2 separate regions of the Homo sapiens genome follow, and region 1 is linked to region 2. Evidence: fine-mapped expression QTL. Tissue or cell type: lung. Region 2 holds a variant in brackets; the other region holds the start of a gene. All regions are shown on one strand. Distances are between the middles of the regions. Region 1 holds the start of PUS7L (pseudouridine synthase 7 like). Region 2 overlaps PUS7L (pseudouridine synthase 7 like).

What was found. PIP is the estimated chance that this variant, and not a neighbour inherited with it, causes the effect.
Region 1: PUS7L starts here. The variant in region 2 is fine-mapped to the expression of PUS7L in lung (TOPMed, PIP above 0.99). The same link has a PIP of 0.9 or more in whole blood.

The regions. Positions count from the first base shown.
Region 1 is chr12:43,750,425-43,766,672 of GRCh38, forward strand. PUS7L (pseudouridine synthase 7 like) reads right to left here and starts at 8,366. Exons shown (of 9, transcript NM_031292.5): 1 at 8,306-8,366; 2 at 3,912-4,837. The coding sequence starts at 4,821. It overlaps IRAK4 (interleukin 1 receptor associated kinase 4), which reads left to right and starts at 8,527. Exons shown (of 12, transcript NM_016123.4): 1 at 8,527-8,592. RefSeq lists enhancers at 8,054-8,103, 8,444-8,553, 9,174-9,233.
Region 2 is chr12:43,710,155-43,726,402 of GRCh38, forward strand. It overlaps PUS7L (pseudouridine synthase 7 like), which reads right to left. Exons shown (of 9, transcript NM_031292.5): 9 at 8,838-16,248. Among named protein-coding and RNA genes, the nearest start is that of PUS7L, 41 kb to the right of the region's middle. The variant G/A (reference allele first, on the strand shown) is at 9,053.

The DNA of each region.
Region 1 (16,248 bases), 40 kb after region 2:
TATTTAAGTTAGTAAGCAATATGGGAACATTTACAAAATCTTAAGGGTCACTAAATTTATAAGTTTAATGTATAAGATTTATAACATTTTCTTAATTACTTAGAACAATTACATATTTAAAAACAAAGTCAATTACACTGAATTTTAAAATTCAATTTTAGAGACTTCCACTTTGAGCCCTGTTGGAATAACTGACACCAGATGACCTCCCACTGTAAACAAATAGAACACTGAACAAAACATATGAAACAGCCATCTTTAGAGACTGGCAAATAGGTACCACAAAACTGTAATCTAAAAGAAAAGAAAAACAAATGAGGGGAATCCTAAAATACTCTAATTTTCTGCCTAGAAGTACATTCTGGAACATAGCACAGACAGAATCCAGGTAGAGCACAGGAGTTTTGCTGAGTTAGGAGGGTAGATATTGGAATTCAGGAAGGCTGAGTGGGCTGGAATTCACAGGGAGAGTACCTGATAAGACAAAGCTTTGTAGAGAAGAAGTTCCAGAAATCTACATAAATCGTTCCTTGAGTTTGTTGCTGATCAGTAATTTATGCATGTCTACGGTTAAATGCTATGTATTATTTATTGTTGCGTAACAAGTCACTTCAAATCTTAGTGGCTTACAATATTCATTTATCTCCTGTAGTTTCTGTGGATCAGGACTTCAAGAACTCTTTGGTTTGGTGGTTCCAGTTCAGGCTCTCCTGAGGTTGCATGCAGTTAGATGTGGCTAGGGCTGCAGTTATTTATTTATTTATTTTTAATTTATATATATATATTATTATACTTTAAGTTCTAGGGTACATGTGCACAACATGCAGGTTTGTTACATATGTATACATGTGCCATGTTGGTGTGCTGCAACCATTAACTTGTCATTTACATTAAGTATATCTCCTAAGGCTATCCCTCCCCCCTCCCCCCACTCCACAACAGGACCCAGTGTGTGACGTTCCCCTTCCGGTGTCCAGGTGTTCTCATTGTTCAATTCCCACCTATGAGTGAGAACATGCAGTGTTTGGTTTTTTGTCCTTGCGATAGTTTGCTGAGAATGATGGTTTCCAGCTTCATCCACGTCCCTACAAAGGACATGAACTCATCATTTTTTATGGCTGCATAGTATTCCATGGTGTGTATGTGCCACATTTTCTTAATCCAGTCTATCGTTGTTGGACATTTGGGTTGGTTCCAAGTCTTTGCTATTCTGAGTAGTGCTGCAATAAACATACGTGTGCATGTGTCTTTATAGCAGCATGATTTATAATCCTTTGGGTATATACCCAGTAATGGTATGGCTGGGTCAAATGGTATTTCTAGTTCTAGATCCCTGAGGAATTGCCACACTGTCTTCCACAATGGTTGAACTAGTTTACAGTCCCACCAACAGTGTAAAAGTGTTCCTATTTCTCCACATCCTCTCTAGCACCTGTCACCTGTTTCCTGACTTTTTAATGATCGCCATTCTAACTGGTGTGAGATGATATCTCATTGTGGTTTTGATTTGCATTTCTCTGATGGCCAGTGATGATGAGCATTTTTTCATGTGTCTGTTGGCTGCATAAATGTCTGCTTTTGAGAAGTGTCTGTTCATATCCTTTGCCCACTTTTTGATGGGGTTGTTTTTTTCTTGTAAATTTGTTTGAGTTCTTTGTAGATTCTGGATATTAGCCCTTTGTCAGATGAGTAGATTGCAAAAATTTTCTTCCATTCTGTAGGTTGCCTGTTCACTCTGATGGGCTGCAGTTATTTAAAAGCCTGAAAGAAACTGGAGGATCCATTCCCAAAGGGGCTCATTTACGTGGCTGGAAGGTTGGTACTGGCTGTTGGCATGAAGCTCTAGTTCCTGTCCAAAGGGCTGTTTTGAGTATCCTCACAGCATAGCAGCTGGCTTTCCCCAGAGTGAGCAATCCAAGAACATGACAAGAAGTGTAATACTTTTATGACCTAGCCTCAGAAGTCACCTCACATCCACATTCTCCCTCAAATTCTTTCCAAGTTCCAAGGCTGAATGCTTACAAAGTAAATATCACGTGTGCTTTACTGACCATTATATCCCATCCACTGGCAGACAAATGGGTAAGCAAAATGTGGCATACACCTACCATGGGGTATTATTCAGCCTTAAAAGGGAAGGAAATTCTAACACATGCTACAACATAGATGAATCTCGACAACATACTAAGTGAAATAAGCCCATTACAAAAAGACAAATACTGTATGATTCCACTTATATGAGACACCTAGAGTTGTCTAATCCATAGAGACAGAATGAAAAATGGTGGTTCCCATTTTTCAGAACTGGAGAGGAGGAAGAATTGTTTAATAAATATGGAGTTTTAGTTTGGGATGGTGAAAAAATTCTGGAGATGAATGGTGGTGAGGGATGTACAACCATGTGACTGTCCTCAATGCCACTGATACTTAAAAATGGTTAAGATGGTACATTTTATGTTATGTATATTTTAATGTAATTTAAAATTAAAAATAAAAGGTTTTTTGAACCATCATTCCTCCTTTTAACATATGCCTCCAACTATTCACAACTTTAGAAAAGTGAATTTAAACTAATATATAAAGTTCTATAATTTTTTTACTCATTAACCCAAATTAATATTGTTAGAATTTCAAGTAGTATAAGATAAATAAGAATTCCTAGAGCTGCTTAAATCACTCACCAGCAATTCCTCTTTCTACAAGTAAAGCTAGTATTGTTTTTCCTTCAAAATGGATATATCTGTTAACACTTACTATATGCCTAATATTAAGTAACTATTACATAGTAAACAATTTCATTATTTCATTTAATCCTTCGAATATCATTGTGAGTCAGGCTTTCCTATTACCCTATTTTTCAAGTACAACCAAAAGTTATGAATTATTAAGTAACTTGCCCAAGGTATTATTCTTCCCATTTTTACATTTGTGAAATCAAATCTTAAACATGTTAAAAATTTCATAAGTCTTTTTGTGAACTAAAAGTCATAATATCAAATCAAACCCACATAGTTCCAAGGTCCAAACTCTTTTCATTTGCACCTGTAGTCCCTACATGGCACCATCCTATTTCTGTGTCACTGTGCAAATTTAGGTTCCTGGTTTTATCTTAAAATATCTTGCTAAATAAATTTATTAAATATGATCATCTGAAACAGTTCCCATCCTTCAAGTAGAATTGAGGCCAATTAAACCTAGTCAGCTGGACTTTTACAGTGAGAGTTCATCAGTTCCAGCCACCATGGGAATTAAACACAGACCCTAAAACAGTGATTCTCAAAACATAGCAGACCAGGAAAAAACACTGCCTGGAAATCTGTGAAAGCCCCAGAATCAGAAACTGAGAATGGAGCTCTGAAATCTGTTTTAACAAGAACTTTTGATGATTATATGCATGCTAAAGTTTCAGAACATCTTGTCTAAAGACCAGCAGGACCAAGTTTTCAGGTTCCCTACCTTGGGTAGGGAAATATAATTTGTTTTGGATTACAGAGTATCTCTTCACTTTCCCAAGCACAGTAAATATATTCTTCTAGTCTCTAAAAACTTAATTTTAATTGAGATGACTTCCAAAATATGAAATCAAGATTTACCTTCAATAAAACTTATTAAACACGAACCAACTGCTTCAACTTTATACATTTGTGAATAGGCTAATATAAATGCCTAGGTTATCAGTAAGGCTAATTTTTAAATTCAGTGTAATTTAAAAGGTTTTATCATCTTCTAGTAAGTAACAGAATAAATAAGAATTCCTAGAGTTGCTTAAATTGCTTATCAGCAATTCCTCTCCCTAAAGGTAAATCATATATTCTTTCCAATCTCTCTAGCCAAGTCTGTTCAATTCATTTTCACAATTTTAAATTTAGCTAAGCTTATCCAAGAAAATGGATGATGATTTATTAAATTACCTGTATATATAACTTTTCCTTCTTGGCATTCAGAAAGAGGCCTTTTCCCACGTTTGTGTGCTTTTTCCCGAAATCTTACTGTTACCACCACATTCGGATTACCAGCACTGCAATTCATTTTAGAAAAAGATTTGGTTTCCACAAGGTTTCCAAACTTTTTGTTGACAAAATGGTGGACAGCTTTTCTGTGGTCTTTGTTTGTATCAGGTTTAAAGGTAAATTTGGAATTTTCTTTCTTTGCATCCAAATATTTAAAAAAGTCAAATGCTTCCTCTTCAGATACCAAATGACAAAGTTCTTTATATTCAAGATTTGGTTTTACAACAATTTCACTGTTTTTTCCTACAGTTACTAAAAATGGAAATTTCTGCCTAATGGCACTGTGTAAACTAGCCCTCTGGTTTTTGTCAAGGATTCTGCCTATTGAGAATTCAGGAGGTAGTCCAATTAGCTCTGTTTTAGAAAGCCACTTCTCTCTTACATCACAGGCAAAATTATTCAGTAACTCATGAGTTTTTTCATCCAAAAAGGAGCTTAAAACATCAGCTTTTTCTTCACATTTGGAAGTTCCATCAACGATAGTATCTTCCTTTTCTGAACCAGACTGATGATTTTGGTCACCATCAGTGTACTTAATCAAAGTATGAACTTCTTGGTTTCTTCCATCTTCTAAGGACAGATTTTGAAGATCTAGTTTTGGTTTTTTGGGAAAATTATTTGGCTCAAGTTGTATTTCACTAATCTTGAAAATAGGCTCATCGATGGTCTTATTAACTAACTGTCCCTGTTCATCAATTTCAATAACAATAAAGTCACTTGGTGAGCTTTTTATAGTGCCATGAAATCCAACGTGATCATTAAAGAAACACAAAGAACTAAACCTGATTCTATAATCTGTATCTTCTTCCATTCTTCTATAACAGTGCCTAGAAAACAAAACAAAGAGGTGGTTAGTTAACAGAAAGAGAAGTTATGGATGACCAAATAGGAATAGGTTTGCAGGATTTAGTTAATTCTGTCTCTCTTTTAATTCTGAGTCTTCTTAAATGGTATCATTAACTTAATTTATAACTATATGTACTTCCTGTGTACTTTGACTCTCCTATACCAAGCTGAATTAATAGGCAAACTATTTCTGGTATAGCTAAAGATTTGTTAACTTGTATCTTCACTCACTCCAGATTTGTACCTATTATCCAGGATTAAAATGAGTCAATTTTATCTTAAAAATATCATTTGTAGGCTCACAAGAAGAGGTGAGAACACAGGACTATAAAACAAAGATTTGTCCAAATTCCATTCCTGGAGCCTAAAATTTCCAGCTAATTCCAGAGAACATGTGGCTAAGTTTTCTTATATTATTAGTGGTTAGTGACAGGAGAGGTGACAAAAAGACAATAGGAAAACTGATGGGTAAATGAAGTTCTAAATACAAATTTGTGATTTGATTATATTTCAAGGTAGGATTAAGTCAGTCCTGGGCCTTCTCTAATGCCCCCATTAGGACAAATAGAAGCTTTCAAGGTTGAGCCAGAGGAAAGTTCTAACTATATCATTGGCATCAGACAGAAGAAACCCTTACAGAGCTTCCTGGAAACACTATGCAAGAGAATAGTACTCTGATCTCTCACTTTTCACACAAACCCATGGCTACCATACCATATGGAGCTGCAGGAAAGATAAATTGCCCAGGGGCCCCATACTAGTGAGTTCTGTGTTTCCCCCACATTCTCCAAGTAACTTATCATCATCTGGACCATCATCTCATACCTATAATGTATTCTACTAATCTGAACCAATTTAGCAAATCACACCTTCTCAATCCTTTCCATCATGCCATATAGAAATCACTACAAATTCTCCATATCCTAATTTCCTAAGGAATATATAAGATATACTTACTTTCCTTAATTACTTAATTTCCTGTACAGTTCCCTCACTTTCTTGCCCTAATTGAAATCTGGCTATTTCTTCAGGCTGCTTCTTCTTCAGTCCTCTCAAGTAAAGGCTATTTTTTCTTTCCCACCCATCTACCTTAGGACCTGGAGGCTGTAAATATTGGTCTATGTTTGTCACTGTTCGTTGCAAGCCATTTCTTCCTCTACTACCTCCAAAAACCCCAATTCTTTTGAAGAGCCTGCCATTGGGCTTTACCATCTGCTGTCATCCTCTCTCGGATCCCCAGACAACTCTGCTTCATTCACTGATCTCTGGCTCACTACCTTCTTATCCAACATGATTTTTATGATCATCTATATGGATCATCCATTCAATGTCTTGGACCCTCAAGTCCTCAATCTCAACCTCAACCTCACACCTCTACTTCATCTTGGTCATCCACTGTCACGGTCATAACTTTGACTTTCTCATCTCCAAAAACTGCATTAACCTTAAGCATCTGATTCTTATGACTCCCAATGTCCTTTATCACACCAACTTTAATACTTCCATTCCAAAAACTTTTAGATATTGTGAAGGTCCCTAACTCCTGCTTCTATAACTAGCCCACAAACCAGCCAGAATGGTCTTAAAAGGTAAATTAAATCATATCACAATCCAGTTTAAAACCCTCTAGTCACATTTGCAATAAAATCCAAATTACTCACCCTGGCTTCCAAGGACATCTAAGATTAGGGACCCTGCTTATTCTCCAAACTCATTTGTACCTTTACCCCATTACCCACTATACTCCAGCTACTCTGGCCTTCTTCAATAGTTTTGTGCTAACTGTTCCTGTTGTTTAAATTGTTCCCTCCCCAATCATATAGCTGCATCTTTTAGGATTCATTTCCTCAGAGAAGTTTTTCCTGACCAATAATCTACAGGAACCTGCAAGTGATTCTCTTTTTTTTTGAGACGAAGTCTCACTCTGTCGTCCAGGCTGGAGTGCAGTGGCATGATCTCGGCTCACTGCAACCTCCGCCTCCCGAGTTCGAGCGATTCTCCTACTTCAGCCTCCCGAGTAGCTGGGACCACAGGGGCGCGCCACCACGCCCGGCTAATTCTTGTATTTTTTTAGTAGAGATGGGGTTTCACCATATTGGCCAGGGTGGTCTTGAACTCCTGACCTCGTGATCCACCCGCCTCGGCCTCCCAAAGTGCTGGGGTTACAGGCGTGAGCCACCGTGCCCAGCAAGTGATTCTCTTTCACAAAACCCTATTTAATTTTCTGCATAGCAGTTCTAGGTAAAGTTTTTCTTTATTATTTATTGTATATCTCCTCCAAAGAGAATGTTAGTTCCACGTGAGGAGTAACCTTGTCTGCCTTATTTACTACTGATGATCACACATTTTGAACAGTGTCAAGCACATGGTAGGTCTGCAATAAATACTATTGTTAAATAAATGAAATAACTAGTACAAAATAAGAGCTGTAGGAATGAAGTGGAAGATAATTAGAAGAGGCATAATGCAAGAAGTGGCCATCTAAGTCCTCCATAGTTCAAGAGATAGAAATGAGGCAGAGACCTCACAAGTAATGTACAAACAAAACATGCAATGTGTGCAAGAAAAACAAGCAGTCCAGATACAGAGCAGTGGGGATGGGAATGCAGGGAGACTACAGTGCTGGAAAATGTAGCTGAGTTAGTACCAGATTATGGAAGATGTTGAATGCCCTGACAAGGACTTAGAATCTATTGGGTGGTCAATGGATGGCTACTGTTAGTGTTTGAGTAGAAAAGTGACACAATTCCAAAACATGCTTTTGGAATTGTAAGATGATTCTGATGGAAATGAGCAAGATGTATCCGATGGAGTAACAGTTAGAGGAGTTCAAAAACAAAACAGCATGGTCAAGAACATAGCTGTAGGGATTGGCCCTGAAAGAATAATGATCTTTTCTTTCTCCCAGAAAAAAGGAGGAAGACAGACATTCTAAGCAAGTGAAACAGGTAGGGAAACTTGGGGAGAATGTAATTCCAGCATCCTGGTAGAAGAGTGGAACTGACCTGGAGGACAGCAAAGGAGCCCACGTGGCGTTAAGCCTGAAGGTGCAGTATTCCCATTCAACAGAGACTGCTGCTGACAGTGGGCGGGGGAGTAGTTTGCTTGGCCCGTGGTTGAGGAATTCGTTGGCGGAGGAGGGATCCTGAGAAGGTACTAGAAATACTGAACCCAGTCCTGCAGAAGCTACTTAACTTCACAGAAAACTAGGGCGTCGTTGCCCTCCAGCACGTCCAAAGGTGTCCCCGACAAGGCCAGCAGCTCTACCTGTTTCTTCTCCCTCCTCTTACTCTGCCTGTCCAAAGGCACGACACTAGTCCACGTCACCTTTCTTTGGGCGCAAAGGGTATGGATCCTCAATGCCAACCTCGTCACCCCCCCCCCCCACACACACACACACACACACACATACAAGCCCACCATCGCGCAAGAAACTCGACCCCGTCTACCTCGGTTCAGTGGAAGGCATTCATTTGCACAACGCTGTGCGCATGCCCGGAAGCCTTAAGTGTTTCAGCCTCCGACAGGGGCGTAATTAAAGGGGCAGGCGCCCACGTAAAGACGCGCCCTACGCAATACGTGGAGTTTCTCACTTTGTGGAGCCGCCTGGAGGCGCCAAGATGAAGCCCATCGGGGAAGTGGGGCGGGGCCAACCCGGCAGGCCCCGCCCCTTCGCGGCGCTTCCTAGTTCGGCTGGTTCTTCTGTCGCCGGCTTCAGCAGCCCGCGCCCGGGCAGGTAAGGCATTCCCCGCCTTAATGCCTCGGTCAAACGTCGTCCGAGGTCCGCTTCCAGGCCTCGGCACCTCTGCCCCAGGGTTGCTGGGGTCGGCTGCGGAACGGAAATCTCTTTATCATCCGTGAGAAAAGTTAGAGAGGAAGTGGGTTCCTTTGACAGAGCTTACTCCAGAAGAAAGACTTGGGTAGGTCCCCGGTAATCAAGAAGTTCGTCGGCCCTGAGGAAGAGCCTGAGGCTTGGAGGGACGTCACCCAGCTGTTCTGGGGCGCAGTCGGACCTCAAGTTTCTCACCTCTCAGGCCCTGGATTCCGTGAACCCGACTGCGAAATGAAGTCTCTTTTCCCCAGAACCAGGAAGTCAGGCCAGCACCTGACAGATGCCTGTGGCGCCAGCAGCTCGCTGAGCCTCCACACGATTGTAATTCGCTTGTTTCTCCGGCCTCCAAGCTTCCAGGGAATTAGAAAGTGGAGGCGGCTTATGGGATCAGATGAGTACATTCGCAGATGGGGGAAAAAAGTGTACCTGTCAGCTTGGAAGCCAGAGGGAGACAAAGGGATAAAAGCAAACCCTGTCCAGGTGCGGTGGCTCATGCTTGTAATCCCAGCACTTTGGGAGGCCCAGGCGGGCGGATCGCTTGAGGTCAGGAGTTCGAGACCAGCCTGGCCAACATGGTGAAACCCCTGTCTCTACTAAGATACAAAATTTAGCTGGCATAGTGGCGGGCGCCCGTAATGCCAGCTACTCCGGGGGCTGAGGCAGGAGAATCGCTTGAACCCAGGAGGCAGAGGTTGCAGTGAGCCGAGATCGTGCCACTACACTCCAGCCTGGGCAACAGAGGGAGACTCCGTCTCAAAAGAAAAAAAAAAAAAAAAAAGCAAACCCTGAGAAAGCGAGAAAGCACTTTGAGCATTTAGAATGGGAACAAACGGCGCTATTAGTGCTTCAAAAACGTAACTGCCCAAGGCCCCTGGTAAGCAGAGGATACTAAAATCTGCCTTTTCCCTTTCTTGGAGTGGTCCTTGAAGAGGGCTATCGGGAAGTTCAAATTTCTTCTGTTTTCCTGCAGAGCGTTCATTTGAAGTTTGCTTTCTACCTCTCCAAACTGAGCTTCTGATATTCCAGGCCAAACTTGCTCCTTCCTCAGCCTTCTCTATCTCAGTAAATATCGGTAAACTTGGTTATGCTGTCTTCTCACTCTCCACATCAGCCCATAGCTTTCTATTGGCTCCACCTCAGAATCCTAGGACTTCTGCACTTGCTCTGCTACGACCCTGGTCCCAGCCTGCAGCACGTCCCACCTGGCTTATTGGTAGGCTCTCCTAAATGCTTCTTTCTTGCTTCTCTGTCCTTACTCCAACATCCTTTATTCCCAGCAGCCCCAGTATCCTTCTAAGACATGAGTACAGAGCATGTCTCTTTTCTCAAAACTTCCAGCATCTACATCTCACCCAGAGGATAAACAAAGTCAATACAAAAACTCTAAGGCCCTTGAAGACCTGGCCCCTTTACCTTTCTGACCTCATCTGCTACTTGCCTGTTCCCTCCTCTGCAGTCTCACCATGTCCTTGCTGTTGCCCAGTGGGCCCAGTTCCAACCTTTGCATTTACATTTCGTTTTGTCCACAAACTTTTCCCACAGATAGTCCAGTGGCTGGCTTTCTCCTTCTTTTTGACCTTTAATCAAATGGCACCTTCTTATTGAGGCTTCCTGTGACTACCATATTTATAATTACAACCTTTTCTCTATTTCGTTTTGTTCTTTCATTTCACTTGGCACCATCTAACATACTATAGAGTTTATTTATTTGCTTATTGCCTTCCTTCCTCCATTAGAATATAAACTCCATGAATTCAGGTTTTGGTTTTGTTTTGTTTTTTTTCTCTAATTTTCCTAATGCTTCATCTCCAGGGGCCTGGAGCAGTATCTAGCACAAAGTAGACACTCAGTAAATATTTGGTGAGTCAATGGTATTATATTTTGTTTTTTAAATATATGCAAAGCATTTTCAATTACTTACTGTTGTGTTGGATCAATGTTCAAGAAAGATATGTTAAGTTTAATTTATGGTACACCAGCACATATCCCAGTTTGTAATAGGCAGCCCTATCTAATTTAATAGCTCTGGAAGCCCTCACCAGCTTTTGTTCATAATGATGATGTTAAAGTATCTAAAAATAAAGATTAATGGTTATACAGCATATTTTGCTAAGAATATATGGAAGTAAATAGTGTATTTTAGAAAGGATATAAATACATTAAAATTACCATGGTTGATCAAATAAGACAGCCACCATCTCAAAAGCTTAGCTATTTTCTCAGACTTGTTATTTGTACGCTTTCAGTAGATCCTCACTACTGTTCTGGAAATTGAACCTAAATACAGTCTGCACATATCTTTAAAAATAATGTGATATAAGAATAATTTCTGCCAGGAAATAATAATTGCTCCTTTTTTTTTTTGACCACCTATTATTATGTGACAAGATTTGGCCCTTTGCATGTGTTGATTTTAATTCTTACAGCAATTCTTAGGTATTACTATCTCTGTTTTTCAGATAAAGAAAAGCAAGGTGCAGAGAAATGTATTTACTAGCTCTGGTCACAGTTGGCTTTGGTTAGAACTTAGGCCTGTGCAACCTCAAAGTTCATCTTCCCTCCACCCCTGCACAATCTTTTCCTCTGATCAAAGTGCTAATGAAGCAGTCTTAAAACTTTATTAACACATTTGACAAGAATCTTTTGCCCTCCTGTTTTGGGCACAGTACTTTGGGAAGGCATTGGATTCCATAAGCAGGTGCTTATTTTAATATATTTCTCAATCACCACCCCACCTTTTACACTTGTCTGAATTGTCTTACTTGAAAATATGAATGGGTTTTCTTTACTATGAGAGTTAGTGGTATGAGGAAACAGTCATGAAGGTATTTACTTATTTGTAAGCAACATATCCTGTTCCACCTGTGTTAATCCTAAGTGTACTAAAGTAAATCTTGAAGAATTTGAAAGAGATGACACTTTTTAAGTTTTTTTTTGCCCAGTCTGTTTTCATTATTGAAAATTCAGAAAAGCAAAATGAAAACAAAACTATCATAAAAGTCATCACCAAGGGATAACCACGTTAATATTTTGGCTTATGTTCTTGTAAGTATGTGGTTGGGAGTGGTATATGAATATACATTTAAAGTAAAATTTTAATTTCTGGGATTTTGAACTTCTGGGCACATGTGTGGAGGAGTTGCAGAAGGCCTTCTTTTTCCTAGTATCCCTACACTTATCACCTCTGCTGGAAGCCTGGGTGCAGGAGAGCTACCAAATTTATCCCTGGCCTTTAGATAGTCTGGGTTTTTTCCTCAATTCCTTGTATTTTGCTCTAATTTATAAGACTACTAAGCAGTTCTATCTTGTCTAGCTTTGTCAATCATGTTGTACCTTACAGTAGAGAGAAATCTTAGTAAGGAAAAATAACTTGAAGAGAGCAACTGCAGAGTCTATAGGCAACCTAGATACAATTTCTTAATTAAAGTTAAAAAGTCATCAGCCTTTCATTCAACACAAATGTTGTGAGTCGTTGCTGAGGTGAATTTGGTTGGGTCCTAGCTCAGGAGAGCACCCATCTAACAGAGAAAGCAAACACATAAACAGTAAAACATAATAATTATTATAACAGAAGAATGACTAGGTGACATTTTGGAGCAAAAGAGATGACAATCAGGGGAAGCTAACAGTGCCTTTTGAATTGGGCTTGAAGGAATAATAGGCATTTACCAGGTGGCCTTTAAGGTATGTGGGCTATTCTTTTACCTGGCCCTAGATGACTTCATTTCCTGTTTCACAGAAAAAATAACAGTATGTGGGAACTCTTCTCCCTTCAAATATATCTGTATTTAAACCTCTGCTTCCTTCTTTCTAGATTCAAAAGAGGTTTCTCTCTATTCAAGGCTGATTTCTTCACCCTATATGCTATTCATTATCCCATTTGTATTGCCAAACAGCTTAAGTCTTAAACCCTTAACACCAACAGTTCTCAAAAGTCTGGTTGGAGTCCCTAATGCTCTTTCAGGAGATTTGTAAGGTCAAAATCATGTTTAGTTAAAAGATTCATTCAGAGTGCAATGGATTTTAATGTTCCAAGTTAATTTATACAGCTTCAGATTCCTCATTGCAGCTTACCTTTAGGAAGTTATTTCTTGTCAAATTTTAGTGTAGTATCAAAGAGAAATATCTACTACTTTGTGAAAAGGCTATTAAAATACACCTTTCTTTATAACTATATGTCTGTGTGAAGCTGGATTTTCTTCATATACATCAACCAAAACAACATGCTGCAGTGGGTTGAGTGCAGAAGCAGATACAAGAATTCAGCTCTCTTCTATTAAGTTAAATATTGAAGAGATTAGCAAAACTTTAAAACAATGTTGTTCTTCTGTTTTTGAGGAAAAGGTAATTATTTTATTAAAATATATATGCTAACATCTATATTTATGATTATTTTAAATGAATTAATAAGTAATTTTTAAGTTTCTCAGCATCAATTTATTATGGTAAATATTGGTAGATATAACCAACATAAACAAAAGCCCTTTGGGGTCTACAATAGTTTTTAAGAGGGTAAAAGGTCCTGAGACCAAATTTGAAAACTGCTACTCTCTTGCATGCTCTCCTCCCTCTCTTTCCCTACCCCTCCACCCCCATTTTCCCTCCCCTCATACTCCTCTCTCTCTCTTTCTCCTTCCCTTCATAACCAGACTTCTTGGAAAATCTGTTTTTGCCATTCACTCACTTTTTCACTATAGCTGTTCCCAAGTCACCAATGGCCTTCTGATTTCAGAGTCTAACATATCCATCAGTGTCTATTTGACCTCTCTGAGTCTTTTATACCAACCTGCCACCTTTTCTAGAAGTCTCTGGTATGCTACCATCCTGGTTTTTTTCTTGCCTTCATGACTAAGCAGTATTTTTTAAAATTCTTCTTTCACATCATTCCTTTCCATTCTAAGCATTCCTAATAGGCAACCTCATTTTATTGTTGCTTCAACTGTATATGTGTATATGCTCTTAATTTGTATGAGGGCATTTCAAAAAGTTTGTGGAAAAATTGAATTAAAAGATAAAAAATGTAAACTTTGGCTCAGCACTATGGCTCATACCTGTAATCCCAGCACTTTGGGAGGCCGAGGTGGGCAGATCACCTGAGGTCAGGAGTTCAAGACCAGCCTGGTCAACATGGCGAAACCCCATCTCTACCAAAAATACAAGAATTAGCTGGGTGTGGTGGTGCACACCTGTAATCCCAGCTACTTGGGAGGCTGAGGCAGGAGAATCGCTTAAACCTGGGAGGCAGAGGTTGCAGTAAGCCAAAATTGCACCACTGCACTACAGCCTGGATGATAGAGCAAGACTCCAAAAACAAAAACAAAACTGTAAACTTTATTTCTGAACATAAGCCCATGAAGTTCAAGACACTTTTGTAAGCGATAACACCAGCCATTTGGGCCATCCCTAAAGAACTGAGAGTCCTGGGAATTTAACCACATCAATGAAGTCTTTTTTACATTATTAACTGAAGAAAAATGGGTGCTCTATGAAGATTTTTCAAGATTGGGAAACAAAAAGAAGTCAGAAGGAGACAAATCAGGACTGTAAGGTGGATGCCTAATGATTTCCAGTTGAAACTCACAGAATTGCCCTTGTTTGATGAGAGAAAAGAGCAGGGGCATTGTGATGGAGAAGGACTCTGTGGTGAAGCTTTCCCAGGTGTTTTTCTGCTAAACATTTGACTAAAGCTGTAACAGAAAAGCTTTAGTTTAGAAACACTTAGAAAAGCTACTGTTTCTCAAAACCCTCTCTAATAAGCAGATGTTACCATTCTTTTTCCCTCCAGAAAGTCAGCAAGCAAAATACCTTGAGCATCCCAAAAACCTGCAGCCATGCCCTTGCTTTTGACTGTCTGCTTTTGCTTTAATTGGACCACTGCCACTTTGGGGGAGCCATTGCTTTGATTGTGCTTTAGGATCATACTCGTAAAGTCATGTTTCATCTCCTGTTACAATTTTTTGAGGAAATGGTTTAGGATCTTCATCCCACTTGTTTAAAGTTTCCATTGAAAGCTCTGCTCGCATCTGCAGCTGATCTGGGTACAACAGTTTGGGCAGCCATCAAGTGGAAAGTTTGCTCAACTTTAATTTTCAGTCAGAATTGTATAGGCTGAACTAGTTGTCTATGGTGTTCACTGTTGGTTCTGCTGTTAATTATAGGTACTCTTCATTTAGGGCACAAACGAGATGAATGTTTTCCTCGAAAATCGATGTGGATGGTCTGCCGCAGCAGGCTTCATCTTCAACATCATCTCATCCCTTAAAATGAGTTACTGATTTGTACACTGCTGATTTTCTGGGGGCATTGTCCCCATAAATAAAGCATCAGTGATTTCACCATTCTTCCAACCAACCTCCACCATAAATGTGGTGTTTGTTCTTGCTTTAGTTTTAGCAGAATTCATGTTGCTGTGGTAGAGGTTCTTTTCAAACTGTCTTATTCTTCTCAGTGTCTCAACTAGATCCTGTTTAGACATGAATGATAAGTTAGTATGAGTTTATTTTGGAAATACATTTTGCAAAAAAAAAAAAATTGAAATCCATGCATGGTTTTTGCACGATATGCATTTTCCATGAACTCTTTGAAAACCCCTTATATATGAGAATACTTACATAATGAGCATTCTTTGCTGAAACCTCTCTCCTAAGCTCCAGACCACATATATAAGTACTTGGTATGAAGGCTCCTAGATAGTGCCAAAGGTAGATATTTCACATTTAACATGAGCCAAAAAAAAAAAAAAAACTTCATTCTATCTCCCTTTCTTCTAATCGCTCATCTCTAGTGAAATTGTTTTGATTTGGCCTCCTAAATGTTTTGACGTTTTACCTCTCCATTCCCCTACCCTATACTTTTTCCAAGCTCTCCTTTCTGCTCACCTGGATTATTGCAGAAGTTTTCAAACTAATTTTCTTGCCTCAATATACATCCCTTTGATTTTTATCCAGAGGAATCCACTTAACCATATAAGATTATTTAACATCCCTCCTAAAAATCCTAAAGTGGCTCTCCTGTAACTTTTAGTTTATAAGTTCAAACTCTTTGTCTTAGCACATGAGGTACATGATGATCTGGCCCTGCTACCTTTCCACCCTCATCTCTTCTCACTTAATCACAGGCATCCTGTGGTCCAGCCATAGCAAGCTCTTTGCCTGAGACACACATGCTCTTACCTTTTCCCATGCTATTCCCTCTGCCTGGAATTTTCTTTTGGGCTTATCCTCATTCCCTTTCATTCATCCTTCCAACCTCCTACTCCAACCAAATCTGTCTTGATATCCCTATTCCAGACTGCCTCTGCTTGATGCCCCTTTTCTGGGCCCCATAACATTCTTGCAGCATTTATCACTCCCTGTCACTGTTTGTATCCCCTGGTATACTGAACAGCTTGGAAACAAAGATTTTCTCTTCTCTGTGCTCCCACTTGTTAGTACAAAGACTGACATAAATATTTTCTGAATGTATTCATGAATGAAAGGAAAGGAATGGTCTTTCTGAAATAGAGAATGGCATGAACAATGCATTGTGTTATAAAAGCAGAGTTGTATGGCATGACTTTTG
Region 2 (16,248 bases):
TATTCAGGGCCCAACGGCTCTTCACTTAGCAGTTGATGAATCCTTTGAAGGACTAGATCTTTCCCTTCAAAGCAGCAGGTTCCCTTCTGGTGCAGCATGTATCTAGAAATGTCATCCAGAAGCTGGGGCCTGGAAAGGGGGGCCTCACGACTCTGGCTGGTGCCCTATCCTGCTGTAGCTGAGCTGGTATCCAACATGCAAGACATAGTCTTCCCCACTCTTCCCTCTCTTCTCCTTAAGGAGAGGGAAGGAGTCTTGAAGCCATGAGCTGTGCAGCCTGAGGTTAGGGGAGGGGTGATGCCAGCACTCTCTTGGTTGCCCCTGCCAGTGTCTCAGTAGGTCACATGTCCCCCCATTCCACTGGCTCTGGGCCCAGTTCCACATTAGGACTCAGCTAGGAGTTCAGGTGAGTCCTTTCAATCTTTTCAAATTGCCTTTCATGATTATTTAGGTCCCAAGAGCACTTTAGCTCACAGTGGCAAGGTTTGTGGGCACTCAAGTTCAGACCGCTGGTATCTGCCATTCCCCTCTGGCTAGGGCTGATTGGAATGCTCTCTCTGTGGGTGGGCATCAGCTGAATTTGGTCCAGTTTTGTTTTCTGCTATAATAGGGCAGCACTGAATCAATCCCTTTCTCAAGTGCACAGAAATGCTCTCCGCACCATGCCACCACTATCAGAGAATGGGGAAAGAGTGGTGTTGGTGATTGAAGACTGTTTTTCCTACCTCTTCAGTACCTCTTTCAGTTATGTGAAGTTAAAGCCAGATACTGTGAGTGCTCACCTGATTTTTTGTTCTTATGAAGGTGCTTTTTTTGTGTAGTTGTTAAATTGGTGTCCTTGTTGGGGGGAGACAATCGGTGGAGCTTCTATTCTGCCGTCTTGCTCCACTCCCCTCCCCTAACTCTTTATTTTTCAGTTTCTATGTCACAACCTTAAGAAAGTCCTTCCTTGAATTCCCTCTCTATAGTCACTTTCTACTTGCGTCAATCTGTTTGTTTATTCTGTAATACTTACCAGATTTTTTAAACTTACTTGTTTATTGTTTACCAGCTCCCTCCCACCATCTTCACTAGAAGGATCATTCTCTGTCTTGTTCATTTCTGTGTCTCCAACTCCTAGAGAAATATTTGACATACAGTGGGCACTCAATAAATATTTCTTAAATTAAATGAAATACAAAGCATAACTTTTTAAGTATCTGTTTCTTTATCTATATATTGGATACAACATCTGTATGAGAATCAAGAAAATAGTCATGAGAACCTTCTATTACAGCACCATTACAAATGTATAATTACAGTCATACATAAAATATTAGAAGTAGAGGATTGTTAAGTTCTTCAACAGTTACCTCCCGGGCTGTGAGTTCTTTGAGGTCAGGAACTATGTCTATTCCCCTTATCACTGTTTACTTCATGCTTAGCCTAGTGTCTGCCATGTAAGTAAATATTTGTAGAATGAACAAATGAGTCAATCAATGAGCATATCATCTCTCTGCCTCCAGAGAGACTTTCATCTACGTGGAATAAGTTTAGTTGTAGTCCTTCACAAAGAATTACATCAATAGAATTGTCTTCTATTCTTCATTTACTCAGTCATAAGAATTATTGAGTACCTACTATGTGCCAGGCACTGTGCCAGGTGCTGAGGATACAATGATAAAAACCCACAAACCAACAATGTCCCTGCTCTCATGGGACCTCATAGTGTTTTTGCTATACTCCTTAATCATTTCTACTTGTATAAAATTGTGATTGAAAGATGCTTCCACTCTTTCAATGTTATGGGATTTAATTTTTTATGTTTGTAAATATATGGCCAGTTTCCATAGACTGCTACATTGGCAATGAAAACAAGTTTTATTCTGTATTCTCCATGCATATAGCTCATTTTATATATATAAAATATCTACCTTATGAATTAACATAATTCTTTCATATCTAAACATATTTTTTCCCACTTACCCTGTCATGGATGGAGGGAAGTGAAGAGTCCTAAAAGTAGTATATTTCTATCTTTCCTTCTATTTATATAATACCTGCTTTTGGACTGATGAAACGCCTTTTATTCAATGCATAACTATTCCAGCTTATTTTAATTTTGTAATCTGGAAGTTTTAGCACTATAAAGCATCCTTCTTTGTCTTATTTAATGATTTTGACTTGAATTCATTCTAAACTGATATTAACATTATGACCTTTGCTTTCTGTTCATATTTGCCTTTGTTCACGACTTTATATATGAGCACTTTGAATCTATTTGTTTTAGGTGAGCCTGTATCATACAGGATAGAGTGAGATTTGCTTTCTGCTATGATATGACATATATATGGCCTCATTTTCCTCACAGTTTTATTTTAAATTGATAGTTTGTGTCAGAAGCCAAGATGGAATTAGACATGCAAAAGGTTTTGGGGATTAATGACTGACAGATAATGAAGAGAAGGAGCAAGAGTAGGCAGGAAAAGCCTTCAGACCATGGTATGGGTCTGAAACTTGAGAAGAGGGAGGGGAAGGAAAGGATAGTTGGGTTGGGTAGGAAGATCCTCTGACTGCAGTGCAGCTCTGAAAAAGTCATGGCCAACCTTACAGGGAGCTCCAGAACAAAGACTGTGCATTAGAGAAGCCTCACATTGGGCACAGATGTGGCCTTAATATCCCTGCCCTGCTAAGCACTGGTGGAGTTGCAGGAGAGAACATGTCCTTGTCGTCAACGCTGCAGCACATCCTGAAAGTATGTAGGTAACTAAACGCAGGCCTGTAGCTAACTGCATGCTGCCTGCCAATCTCACTCTTGGAGGAGTATTTGAGTGAAAAATTGCCATGGCTACCACACACATTTTATAATATTTTTATTCAAGTATAATTTACATGCAGAAATGCACAGATCTTAACTGTGTACAGCGTAACAAGTTTTGACAAATTAATAAATCCATTTATCCCATCTCAAGGTACCAAACATTTCTTTCACACGAAAAATTCCCTGTGGCCCTTGGATCAAATCAAACCTCCTTCCCTCTGCACACTGGCTTCTTCTCCCCCCTACAAACTGAGGCAACCATTGATCTGATTTTTATTACCATAGTTTATTTTGCCTGCTTTGAACTTCATATAAATGGAATCATAGTACATGTTCTGTTTTGCTTCTGGCTTCTCTTATGTAACATAATGTTTTTAATATGCATGCATGCAGCGTGATCAGTAGCTTAAAATTGTTTTTTATTCCATTATGTAACTATACCATCACCTGTTTATCCATGTTCCTTTTGTGGACATTTGGGTTGCTTCCAGTTGTTGACTATTATAAAGTTACCATGAACATTTATTTATTTATTATTTATTTATTTATTTATTTTTTGAGATGGAGTCTCGCTCTGTCACCAGGCTGGAGTGCAGTGGCACGATCTCAGCTCACTGCAACCTCCATCTCCCAGGTTCAAGCGATTTTCCTGCCTCAGCCTCCTGAGTAGCTGGGACTACAGGCGCGCGCCACCACACCCAGCTAATTTTTTGTATTTTTAGTAGAGACAGGGTTTCACCATGTTGGCCAGGATGGTCTCAATCTCTTGACCTCATGATCCGCCCGCCTCGGCCTCCCAAAGTGCTGGGATTACAGGTGTGAGCCACCTCGGCACAGCCCAGTTACCATGAACATTTTTTATCCTTCTTTTGTGTAGACATGTATTTTCATTAATCTTTGGTAAATACCTAGTTTGGAATTACTGAATCATATTGTAAGTGTATGTGAAATTTATGAGAAAATGACAAACAATTTTCCAAATCATTGTTCCAGGGGTTCCCAGCTCCCGGGCCACAGACTGGTACCCACTGGTACTGGCACTGGACTGTTAGGAACCCAGCCACATAGCCGGAGGTGAGTGGCAGGCAAGCCACCATTACCGCCTGAGCTCTTCCTCCTGTCAGATCAGCGGCAGCATTAGATTCTCATAGGGATGCAAATCCTATTGTGAACTGTGCATGCGAGGGATCTAGGTCTTGGGCTCCTAATGCCTGATGATCTGAGGTGGAACAGTTTCATCCCAAAACCATCTCCCCACATTCCCCTGCCCCGTCCATGGAAAAATTGTCATCCACGAAACCAGTTCCTGGTGCCAAAAAGGTTGGAGACGGCTGATTTGTACCATTTTCACACAAACAACAGGCTGTCAAACAGAGGTTGTGTTTTGGTTGGCATTTAATCTAATCTGTATACCAATTTGGGGTAAACCATTTTAACAACATTGAGTCTTACTGTCATGAACATCATACATCTGTCCACTTATTTAGGTCTTTTTAATTTTTCTCTCAGAAATGTTTTGTTAACAGTGTAGAGAACATGTAACCACTTGTTAAATACACTCCTATTTGTTTTATACTTTTATGCTATTGTAAATATTATTGTTTTTAAATTTTCATTGTTCAATTATTCGTTGCTATTACATAGAAATAGAGTTAACTTTTGCACATTGACCTTTTAGTCTGTGAACTTCCTAAAAGCAACGATTAGTTCTGGCTGTTTGTAGATTCCTTTGCATTTTGTATGTCCACCAACATGTTGTCTTCCAAAGATAAAAATTTATTCCTTTCCAAACTTTATGTATTTACATGTTATTTCTTTTCCTTACTTTATCTCCCTGGCTAGGACCTCTACTATCACGGAAGTGGTGACAGCAGACATTTTTGCCTTCTTTCTGATCTTTTAGGAGAAGCTCTTCAATATTTTAACGTTAAGTGTTTTCTTCATTATGGATCACATTTTCTTGCTTCATTAAATGCCTTATTTTAAGAATTCAATTCCCAACATTGAGTATAAGATATCAGTGGTGTTTTGTTTTATTTATTTCCCAAACAGTACAAGCTCTTTCCTTTTTTGGCTGTTGGAAGAAAGGCTGTTTATTCTGACTCTTTCTAGAGTTTGAGTTGAGCTTAGGCTGGTACACAGATTATGTTAGGTTGAGTTTACCTACCCTCAGAGTGGGAGCTAATATGGCTCTCTGCTTAGCCATAAAGAATTCATGTCAGCCTGGGGCAGTGCCATGTGCCTGTAGTCCCAGCTACTTGGAGACTGTGGCAGGGGGATTGCTTGAGCCCAGTAGTTTGAGGCTGCAGTGCCTTATGATAATCACACCTGTGAATAGGCAGTGCACTCCAGCCTGAACAACATAGCAAGACCATGTTGCTTAAAAAAGAAAAAAAAAATTATATCACCCTTATAGTCAGTCCATCAAGCTTTCCTTAAATTCATTACCCTCTGTTAATTCCATGGGAAAGTATAATTTTTGTTTTGTCTCAGAGATTCTTGTTAACACAAACATAAAGGTCTTTTGTAGTCTTTTATATCCTAACCCATTAACATTTCATTTTATTGTTTTTCTTGCATTTGTGGGTACCTGTTGTGTGTTTAAATCTTCATACTTGGGAGAGCTCAACTTGGTTCTAGTGGTAGTCTTTGTTTTCTCTTAATTTGTTTTCCTCATTGTCTATTGTTACCTGTGCTTCTTTCAATTTATTTCCATTTTTCTGATGATTTTGCTTTTGTCTTTTGCATCTTTCCTAAGATCCACTATCTCAGGTTTCACCTCCTCCTCCTTTCGTCTTGTTATATCTTTCCTGTGTTTTTATACTTGATCCATTTCTTTTTTATAGCCATCCTTTATAGAAATTATTACTTTACAAAAAAATTATGTTTATCACATTTTTTATCTTCTTTATGGCCACCTGTGTGTAGTCTGTTGGTAAATTTTGCTGCTCTCTTCCACATGTTTATCTTACAGTATCTATGTATTGAGGCCATGCCAGTATCTTTTATTACTAGTAATTCAATGAGTTAAATTTCCCAGAGCAGCTATTTGCAGGAAGATCTTGATTAGGAGGGAGAGGCCAAGAAAATCTTCCAAGCTTTATAACTCAAAGATTCCCTCTTCTACTTCTACAACTATAGCACACCATTGTTTGTGATGCTTTGTTTAGCCCCAAGTCAGGTTCAGCAGGGTTTCTGCTGCCAGTTTTGCTTACTTAATTTTGTACACCCTTGACAATAAGCAAATTAACTTTTTCTTTAGAAAAAGCAGTTTTGCTGCTTTTGAGATCCGCTATTATTGAACAGTCTTGCCACTTTTTTCATTCTCTATTATGCAAATTTTCAGGTCTCATCTGCTCTTGGTAGCTCATAGATGTCGTTAAATTTGCTTATTATATTGTTTGTAGGGGTTTTTTTAACGTCATTTTTCTCATTACTTTTGTATGACTTCCAGAAGGGGGAAAAAATCCCCACTTACACAGCTATGTTCATATCAAAAGTCACCTAAAGGTGTTTTGGCAGAAATCTAAATTCTAACTCATGTCTCATAAGACAGTGTTTTATCTAGTCTCTTGGATAACATGAAATACAATTGTAAATGCAGTAGTCAAGGATTGAAAATGCTAAGTTTGCTAATTTTTCTTATCAAAGAACATATACAGAATATTTCCCAGTAGCTCCTACTAAAAGAAATTCTATTCAACTGCAATTGTTAGAGCTATTCAGCTGATTATCAAAATACTTTAATTCATCATCTAAAAACTGATTGCATAATAAAAATAAACATCCTAAAACTCCAGAAATAGCCAGAGTGAACTGTAGAGTAGCCCCCAGCTTTTCTTAGTGCACTAAGCCATGCAAGTATACCCAGTAGAGTTACATAAGCTATGAGGGGGTTATAAGTGCAAGGATATATTTCACTGTGAAATTAGAGCAGGCATTGAAGTTGAAGGATGGCTCCTAGTGAGTTTTCTTTTGGGAACACTAAGTAATCATCAGTACAAAGGTCACAGAAGTATCTTATGAAGCCAACCAACCACCTATGGCTTTCTGTGGCTGTGGAACTGATCAAGTCCAGTGAAGACTGAGAGCATGGGGGCATGGACCAAAAAGAGAGAGAAAAACAAAGAAGAAACACACAGGGCAATAAATGTCATTTTTATATGGACATCATATTTTATAACATTATTTATTTTTAATATACCTTGAAAATGCAGAATGGTTAAGAATAATGAGGAATTTTGCCTTCAGCTTCTTCCTCTATTTTATCTGACTCCATATAGTGTATTGCTCCCCAACTTTTTCCCCTCACATGAAGAAAATGATAATTGTGTCTCTCTAAAGTAGACTGGAGAGGATTAGGGGTATCAGTGGGGGAAAAAAATGATTACCTTTCTTTAAATAATTATAAGAAAAACAAAATACAACTACTAGGGAAGATATTAAGTATAGAATTTGTATAAAATTTCAACATAAAATATTTTTGCAATTTTAATGAGACATTCGCGCTTGCTTTTCTGACCATAATATTTTAATAGTGGGTTTTGTGTGTGCAATGGGTATATACACTTCTTGGCTAAACTTAGGATTAAAAGAATAACAGGCAAAGTGTTTGTGACAGTGCCTACCAAATAGTAAATGCTGTTTAACTGCATATAAAATTTTTTGGAAAATTTTAGTCTTCTTTTAGAGTCATCCAAAGTTTACAGCTATTGAAAAGTCCTCCAGGTTCATCCATGTTATAGCAAATGACCGAATTTCCTTCTTTTTAAAGGCTTAATAGTATTCCATTGTGTATATGCACCACATTTTCTGTATCTATTCATCTGCTGAATGGTTGGTTTGTATTGTGGCTACTGTGAATGCTGCTGCAATAAACGTGGGAGTGCAAAGATCTCTTCAACATACTTACTTCATTTCCTTCGAATATATGCCCAGTAGTAAGATTGTTGAATCATATGGTAGTTCTATTTTTAATTTTTTGAGTAGTTTCTATACTATTTTCTATAATGTCTGTACTAATTTACATTCCCACCAACAATGTACAAGGATTTCCTTTTCTCCACATCCTTGGCAAGATTTGTTCTTTCATCTTTTTTAATAATAGCCATTCTAAGAGATGTGAGGTGATAGTCACTGTGGTTTTGATTTGCATTTCCCTAATGATTAGTGATGCTGAGCATTTTTTCATACACCTATTGGTTATTTATATGTCTTTCTTTGAGAAATGTCTATTCAGGTCCTTTGTCCATATTTTAATCAAGTTTTTTTCTTGCTATTAATTACTTTTGGATATTAACCCCTTATGATATGTATGGTTTGCAAATGTTTTCTCCCATTCCGTAGGTTGTGTCTTCATTCTATAGATGGTTTCCTTTGTTGTCATGGTAATCACCATGGGTTTTCTCATAGACTACTCCGCTATTACGTTTAAAATGCAAGTTCACCAGCCGGGCACGGTAGCTCACCCCTGTAATCCCAGCACTTTGGGAGGCTGAGGGTAGACTACTTCCCTATTACATTTAAAATGCAAGTTCACCAGCTGGGCACAGTAGCTCACACCTGCAATCCCAGCACTTTGGGAGGCTGAGGGGGGCGGATCAAGAAGTCAAGAGATCAAGACCATCCTGGCCAACATGGTAAAACCTCGTCTCTACTAAAGATACAAAAATTAGCTGGGCATGGTGGCACACACCTGTAGTCCCAGCTACTCGGGAGGCTGAGGCAGGAGAATTGCTTGAACCCGGGAGGCGGAGGTTGCAGTGAGCCGAGATTGTGCCACTGCACTCCAGCCTGGCAACAGAGTGAGACTCTGTCTCAAGAAAAAAAAAAAAAAAAAAAAAAAAAAAAAAAATATATATATATATATATATATATATATATATGCAAGTTCAATATATGTGTTCGTTTGTGTGCATCTGCGTGTGTGTGTGTTCCCCAAACCCCAAAGCAAAAACAGGGCAGCTTTTAAAAACGAATCTGTTTCAATAGAGCTGAAAGGATTATTAACAGATTTAGTAGTTTCCTCAAACCAAAGGATGTTTTATAATATTTATTCTTGCATTCTAAAAAATTTGATACATAACAATATAAAAGTCCTTAAAATTTATTGAAAGTGTAAGTAATATTTTTAGAACATATACTCATGTAACCAAATTCAGGCCAAAAGATAGTCTGAGAATGGAAATTTACATTCCAAACACACACTGAAATAGAGATGCAAAAATCCTAAACAAAATATTAACAAATAAT[G/A]TGATTGATCTCAGAAACAGTATTGAGTAAAACAAGGAAGACACAAACACAGATATGTACAATTCCATTCACATAAAATTCAAAATCAGACAAAACTGTGTATTTTTTAGGAATGAATACATGGGTGGTAAAGCTATCAAGAAAAGTAAGAAAAGTATTATAAAAGTTGAAATAAAGCTAACCTTGGAGTTGAGGACTTGTGATTAAAGAGGTGTTCATGAAGGATTTCTTGGTTGCAAAGCAGTCTTCTATCTTTTAGGTGTGGTCTCATAAAGTAAGAAACAGGTGGGGGGACTCTTCTTTATTTTTTCTAATCTCAGGAAAGTTTGTGTAGACTTGAATTATTATTTTTTTGAATGTCTAGTAGAACCAACCATTGAACACATCTGGCCCTGACCTTCCCTATATGGAAAAATTTTAAACTACTGGTTCATTTAATGATTACAGGATTATCATTATAGTATTCACATAACATAATACTGTCAAATTATATTTTTAAATGAATTTTCCATTTTATCTAAACTTTCAATAATATTGGCAGAAAATTGTTCATAATATTCTATTATCTTTTTAATTTTTACAGCACCTATAGTGATTTCCTTTCCAATTATGATATTGGTTAGTTGTAACTGCATTATTTCCATCAGTCTCACCACAAGTATGTCAGCTCTACTAGTATTTTCAACAAACCAACTTTTGGATTTGTAGATCGTCTCTTCTATTCTGGTTTTATTTCATTCATTTCTGTTTTAAGTTATCCTTTCCTTCTTTCTTTTGATGTTCTACTTGATGTCATTTTCCTAACTTCTTTAGATGGGTGCATAGCTACATAATGTACAGACTTCCTTCTTTTCTACCATAAGCATTTATGAATATAATCTCCCTCTACATGCTGCTTTAAGTGCATCCCACAAGTTTTGATGTGTAGTATGGTTTAATATCATTGACTTAAAAATATTTTCTAATTTCATTTTGTCTTACTTGACATATAGATTACTTAGAAGTGTATCTCTTCATCTGTAATCCCAGCATTTTGGGAGGCTGAGGCTGGCAGATCATTTGAGGTCAGGAGTTTGAGACCAGCATGGCCAACATGGTGAAATCCCATCTCTAATAAAAATACAAAAATTAGCTGGGTATGGTGGCACACGCCTGTAATCCTAGCTCCTTGGGAGGCTGATACAGGAGAATCACTTGAACCCAAGAGGCAGAGGTTGCAGTGAGCCAAGATCGTGCCACTGCACGGGTGATAGAGTGAGACTCCATCACAAAAAACAAAAAATAAATAAGTGCATCTCTTAATTTCTGATATATAGAGATTTTCCTGTTATCTTTTTGTTGTTCATTTCTAGCCTAATTGTGTTGTGGCAAAAGAATATACTCATATGGTTTCAGTCATTTGAAATTTTATTGCATATGCTTATAGTCCAGTGCATAGTCAATTTCTATAAATGTCCCATGGATGCTTTAAAAGAATAGAGGTTCTGTGGCTGCTGAGTATATTGGTCATTCAGTATACTGTTAAAGCTGCCTTTAAGGTTTTTCTTTTTATTATTGATGTTTTGCATATTCACTATGATGTATCTCAATGTAGTTTTTTAATTTACACTGCTTGGGATTCACTGAACTTCTTAAATCTGTACTTTACTGTCTTATTAGTTCCAGATAATTCTCCATGTTTTCTCTTTCTCTAGTTTCCTAACTGCATTCTATATGTGTCCTCATCTATAAAATGAAAATAATAACAGTACTTATCCCACATGTAAGTACTTGTTGATAAAATATAAAATGCTTAGTACACAGTACTCAATGATTGATAGCTATTGTCATTACAACACTTAAAGTGAATTTTCCCCAACTTTCCTTAATGTCATAAAGTTTTAGAAATATGCAGATAAATTCAGAGATAAGCAGATATTAAATAATCACTAGCTAGGCAAAGTGGAAAACTGAAGCACTTTCCATTAGAAATCAGTAGAGCAAGTGGTTATCATCATGCCCTTAAAACCAAAAAGGGCCAGGTTAGACTCTCTTTACAATCTAGAGGAAGCTACTTAACTTCTTCAAGCCCTGGAATCCTCATTTGTTAAATGAGACTAGTTATCATACCTGACAGCTTGTTCTAAATTTTAAATCAAATTCTACAATGCATTTAATATTTCAATAAAAGGCAAAGATGAAAGTATTACAAAAGAAAAAGCATTATAAAGATACCCAATTTTAATACTCTAAACTTTCTATGAGGGGAAATAACTATTTCAGAACTTTCTTGAGATGTGTATTCAGCAAATAAATTTGCTAAGGTATATTTGCAGTATTCACTCAGCATTTTTAACCCTGTTATATGTCAGGCACTGATAGGTGCCAGAGGTATAAAGATCAATGCTCTTGAATAATTCACAGTAGATGATCCAGATATTTAATCAAATAAGTACAATACAATGTGAGCCATGAGATGGTAGAGAACTATACAAAAGGCTATGAGAACACAGATTTCACATAAAAGACATTTAATATAAGCAGAGATGTTCCAGCCAATGGGAATGGGAGGTTGAGGTGTATAACATGGGAACATTTGCTATTAGGCTGAGCATCTCTAATCTGAAAATTCAAAATCCAAAATCCAAAACTTTTTGAGTACTGACATGATGCCACAAATGGAAAATTCCACACCTGACTTCATGTGATAGGTCACAGTCAAAATGTAGGTGCACAACATATAGTCTATTCAGTGTTCCCAAGGGAAAAATAAATTACCTTCAGGTTATGTGTATAAGGTATATATGAAACATAAATGAATTTTGTTTAGACTTGGGTCCCAACTCTAAGAGTATCTCATTATACATGTACAAATATTCCAAAATCCAAACATATCTGAAATCTGAAACTTTTAGTCCCAAACATTTTAGATAAGGGATATTCAACCTGTATTTGTGAAACAGCTGTAACAAAGGGTATGTACTATGGAGTAGTGACAGAAGCCACTTGAAGATTTGGGGCCATACTTGCAGGTGTAAATGTGTTATGTTGAGGGGTTTGGACTGTTACTGCATAGATACTGGAAAGCTTCTGAAATGTTCTATGGCCCCAAAACAATGACATTTCTACTTTTTGGAGAACAATTGACATAGTAAACAAGATGGACTGACTAGAGTGAAAAACGAAGGCCACCCAGTTAGAACATTATTATAATCATCAAAATAAAGAAGACATAAAAAATAGTCATCAAATGTTTTCAATGCATTGGGATAATGCTCTTCCAACTTAGAATAACTGCTTCCCAGATTTGCTATTGCCTCCTAAATGTGAAAATTATATTATTATTTACATAGAATAAAAATGTATTCGATTCCTTTGCGATATTTTATAGAAAAATAAATTAGTTTCCTTTTGAAAATCATATGCAAAAAATTCATTTTATTATAACCTATCATTCATTTTATTATAATGGAATTATAAAGGTTATAGAAAAAATATCCATCTTCCCTTTTTAGAAAAGAACACTAGTCCTTTATGTTCCCCTGCCACAGGGGAGGCATTGGAAACAATGATCAGCTCAGATTAAAACCCTATTGTACTGAAAAACTCAGAATCCTGACTTAACTAGTCTAAGGAAATGCCAGTAAGGCTTATTAGAAAAGGGAGGCTTGGTATAAAAGCATAAAGAATTGAGTTCAACCCCCTCCACTCTTCACCCTATCCTGCTGCCCAAACACCCTTAGTTAAGGAGTGACCAGCTCTTTGATCTCTTCTCTTTTAAAATAACCAAATAGCTCTTGTTTTGACTCCATGGCTAAACTCCATCCTTGCAACAGGAGTTTTATTTCTACATTGGTAGTTGAGTTTCTAACAAAAAAGACAATTTAATATATCTTATATTTTGTAATATGTTCTAAAGACTAAATTTAAATAATTTCATGGCTATTCTGACTTCTTTCCATAGTAAAATTTTTCTTTTGTAAGAGATGGCCTATGTACACAGGCAGAGTAAATTAACTCCTGCCTCAAAGTTGCTGAGAAAATGAATTGCTTAAGAAGATTAGAGTCATTTTCTTTACTTAGAGGTATTCTTGACAACCCACACTGAAATTACACAAGATTAACTCCATTAACACCATTTCCCATTCTTTAAACTAGTAGCTTTTTAGAAAGCAGCATTTAGACTGAATAGTTCAAAGCATATTTTAAGAGGAGATCTCAAGATGCTTAGAAATGCTAAATAAGTATCATTTAAGGATTTAGAATGGAGTGCTGAGAGGTCAAGTAACATATTATTGGTCATACAGTGAGCTGTAAGTGAAATGAAAAGATGCTGCTTGTTTTTCTCTTTACCATTTAGTCTGCATATTCCACTTGCAAGTGGCATTTCAAATCAAATGAAAACAAGGGATATTAACACTGTTAATCCCTCAAAGAAAGGGATATTATTTATTTTTGTCTTTCCCATAGCATTTTGTAGAGTACCTTTCACTTATTCAAATATTTGTTGGTTATTATGCCATATATTTGACATTATTTTGTGGCCTATTAAATATACATAAATCAGAGGGCTTAGAAAAACAGATTAAAACAGTACTATAAGAGAATCTTTCTGAAACTAGAAAGCAAAATCTATTAACACAGGCCCTAAACTTTAAACTAGTTATCCTAGCTGCCATTGGTGCCATTAAAATCTCTCTCTCTCAAAATGTTGTCATGAGCCACCAAAACCATTCTGAACAAATGCAATCATAACCCATTAATTCCCTTAAATTTCCCTCTTTGATCTTTATGCAATCTTCAGTGTTTTTAACCGCAAAATAATACACAAATATACTCATGTTTGAAATTCAAACATCAAAAGTAAATGGAGGAAAAAAGTCCCATTTTCCTACCTCCCCATATCTTCCTCCAACCTCTTTTCCTACCCTTACATTAATGTAAAAGACTTTGCATTAAATTATATAGAGTTTCATTTTCTTTTTGTTCTCTTAAAGATTACTCCCAGGTAGAAAACGTTAAGGAACATTGACCTAGACAGCTCTTAAAGATCCTAATTTGAATGAACTACTGAATCCCCAGATTTAGAAATAGTTGTTTCTACTACTACAAAAAAAAAAACCTCTAAAAATATGAATTGTAATTACTTTATGCTAAAACTAAGTCAGATCAGACCTCAATGGAAAGTCATTAACCATTTTATTATAAAAATTTTATCAGGGAGCATAGTAAAGTAATACTAACTGTAATAATACTAGCTGAAATTTACTGAGAATTTGCTAGGCACCAGACATTGTTCTTAGTGTTTCATAAGACTTGCTAAAATCAACTATCAGTAAAATTTTAAGATATAGCATGTGGTCATCAATGCCTCTGCTCATAATGTCTCAAATTTGTATATATTTCATAATTTTGTTTGATGCAATACTATCCTGGACTGAAAAATGATAACTAACAGTACTTCAAGTCCAAGAATTCTACAACAGAATCAGTGGGTTACTAAAGTCGCATATTAAAGCAGTGGTAGAGCCCATCTCTGATTTCAGGGATTCTCAACTGTACCAGTATATTTCCCATACTCTAATCCTTCATGTATTGGTATCATAATTACTGCTATGTCTATACTATTATTTATTTAATACCTTTAAATTGATTCTACCTCTTTAAAATTAAATTTAGTTTTAAAGGAAACATAATACCATCACATAAACAGGAAGCCAGAATTGATTACCATAAATAAAAGGGAAGATAAATTCAATAAAACAATGCAATCCTATTACATTCTAGCTACATATTATATTGTTGACTGCTGATGTTTCTGAGCCTGAGGCCTGCATAGTTGGCTAAAAAGGTAAATCAGCCAATGTTGATATATGTAAATAGTATCAATCAGCTTTCTCCTTCCTTAAACAGAATGATTGATGTGAGGACTGAAAGTATATTGAAAAAGAACAAGTTTCTCACTATGCTTTTTCAATGATATTTGTGCCAGGTACCATCTAAAACACCTCCTATGATCTATAATGATTTTACATATTATTATGATACAAATCCCAAAATACTTTGGGAAAACTCCAAAATGATTTGGGGATTTCCTGAAGGGATCCCCTTTACTTTATATTTTGGTCTCAGAATCAAAAGGTATCTTGTCTCTCCCAAGACATGCCCCAATATGCCTATTAAATCAATGGCAAGTTATATCAAGTTGGTAGAAATGGAAGTTATATTTTAATTTTTAGTTTAGTTTTTTTTTTTTTTTGAGGTGGAGCCTCGCTCTGTCACCTAGGCTGGGCAATCTCGGCTCACTGCAACCTCCACCTCCCGGGTTCAAGCGATTCTCCAGCCTCAGCCTCCCAAGTAGCCCAGCTAATTTTTTTATTTTTAGTAGAGACAGGGTTTCAGCATCTTGGCCAGGCTGGTCTTGAACTCCTGACCTCGTGATCCACTCGTCTTGGCCTCCCCAAAGTGTTGGGATTACAGGCGTGAGCCACCGTGCCTGGCCTAAATGGAAGTTAATATCCAAAAACTTGTTCTCAGAAGGCAAATGTTAGGTAGATGAAAACAGTACTGATTTAAGAAGCATAATCAAGCTCAACCACACGCTATTTTGTTTGACCTTGATTAGGTTAGTAAACTACTCAGGTATGTTTCCAATCTGCAAATAAGGGAAGATAATACCTCCACACAGGGTGGGAATATGGATTAAAGTGTGAGATACTGACATAATAGATACTCAGAAAATGTTAGTTAAATCAAAAGTTACATGACTTTCAGTTTTTTACAGCTCACAAAAAAAAAATCAAGGTGTTTTAATTTTAATATTAGTAAAAGACCTCAATTTGTTTCACCTAACCGACTCCCAGGCACTACTGCTAGCTCAGCGTCAAACAACCTTGGCAATTAAAACTAATTCAAATATAGCAATGAGGGAGGCATCACACAACCTGACATCAAACTAAACTACAAGGCTATAGTAACCAAAACAGCATGGTACTGGTACAAAAACAGACACATAGACCAATGGAACAGGTTAGAGAACCCAGAAATAAAGGCCACACACCTACAGCTACTTGATTTTTGTTAAAGTCAACAATAACAAGCAACAGGGAAAGGACTCCCTATTTAATAAATGGTGCTGGGATAACTGGTTAGCCACATCCTGAGGATTGAAACTGGACCCCTTCTTTTTACCATATACAAAAATCAACTCAAGATGG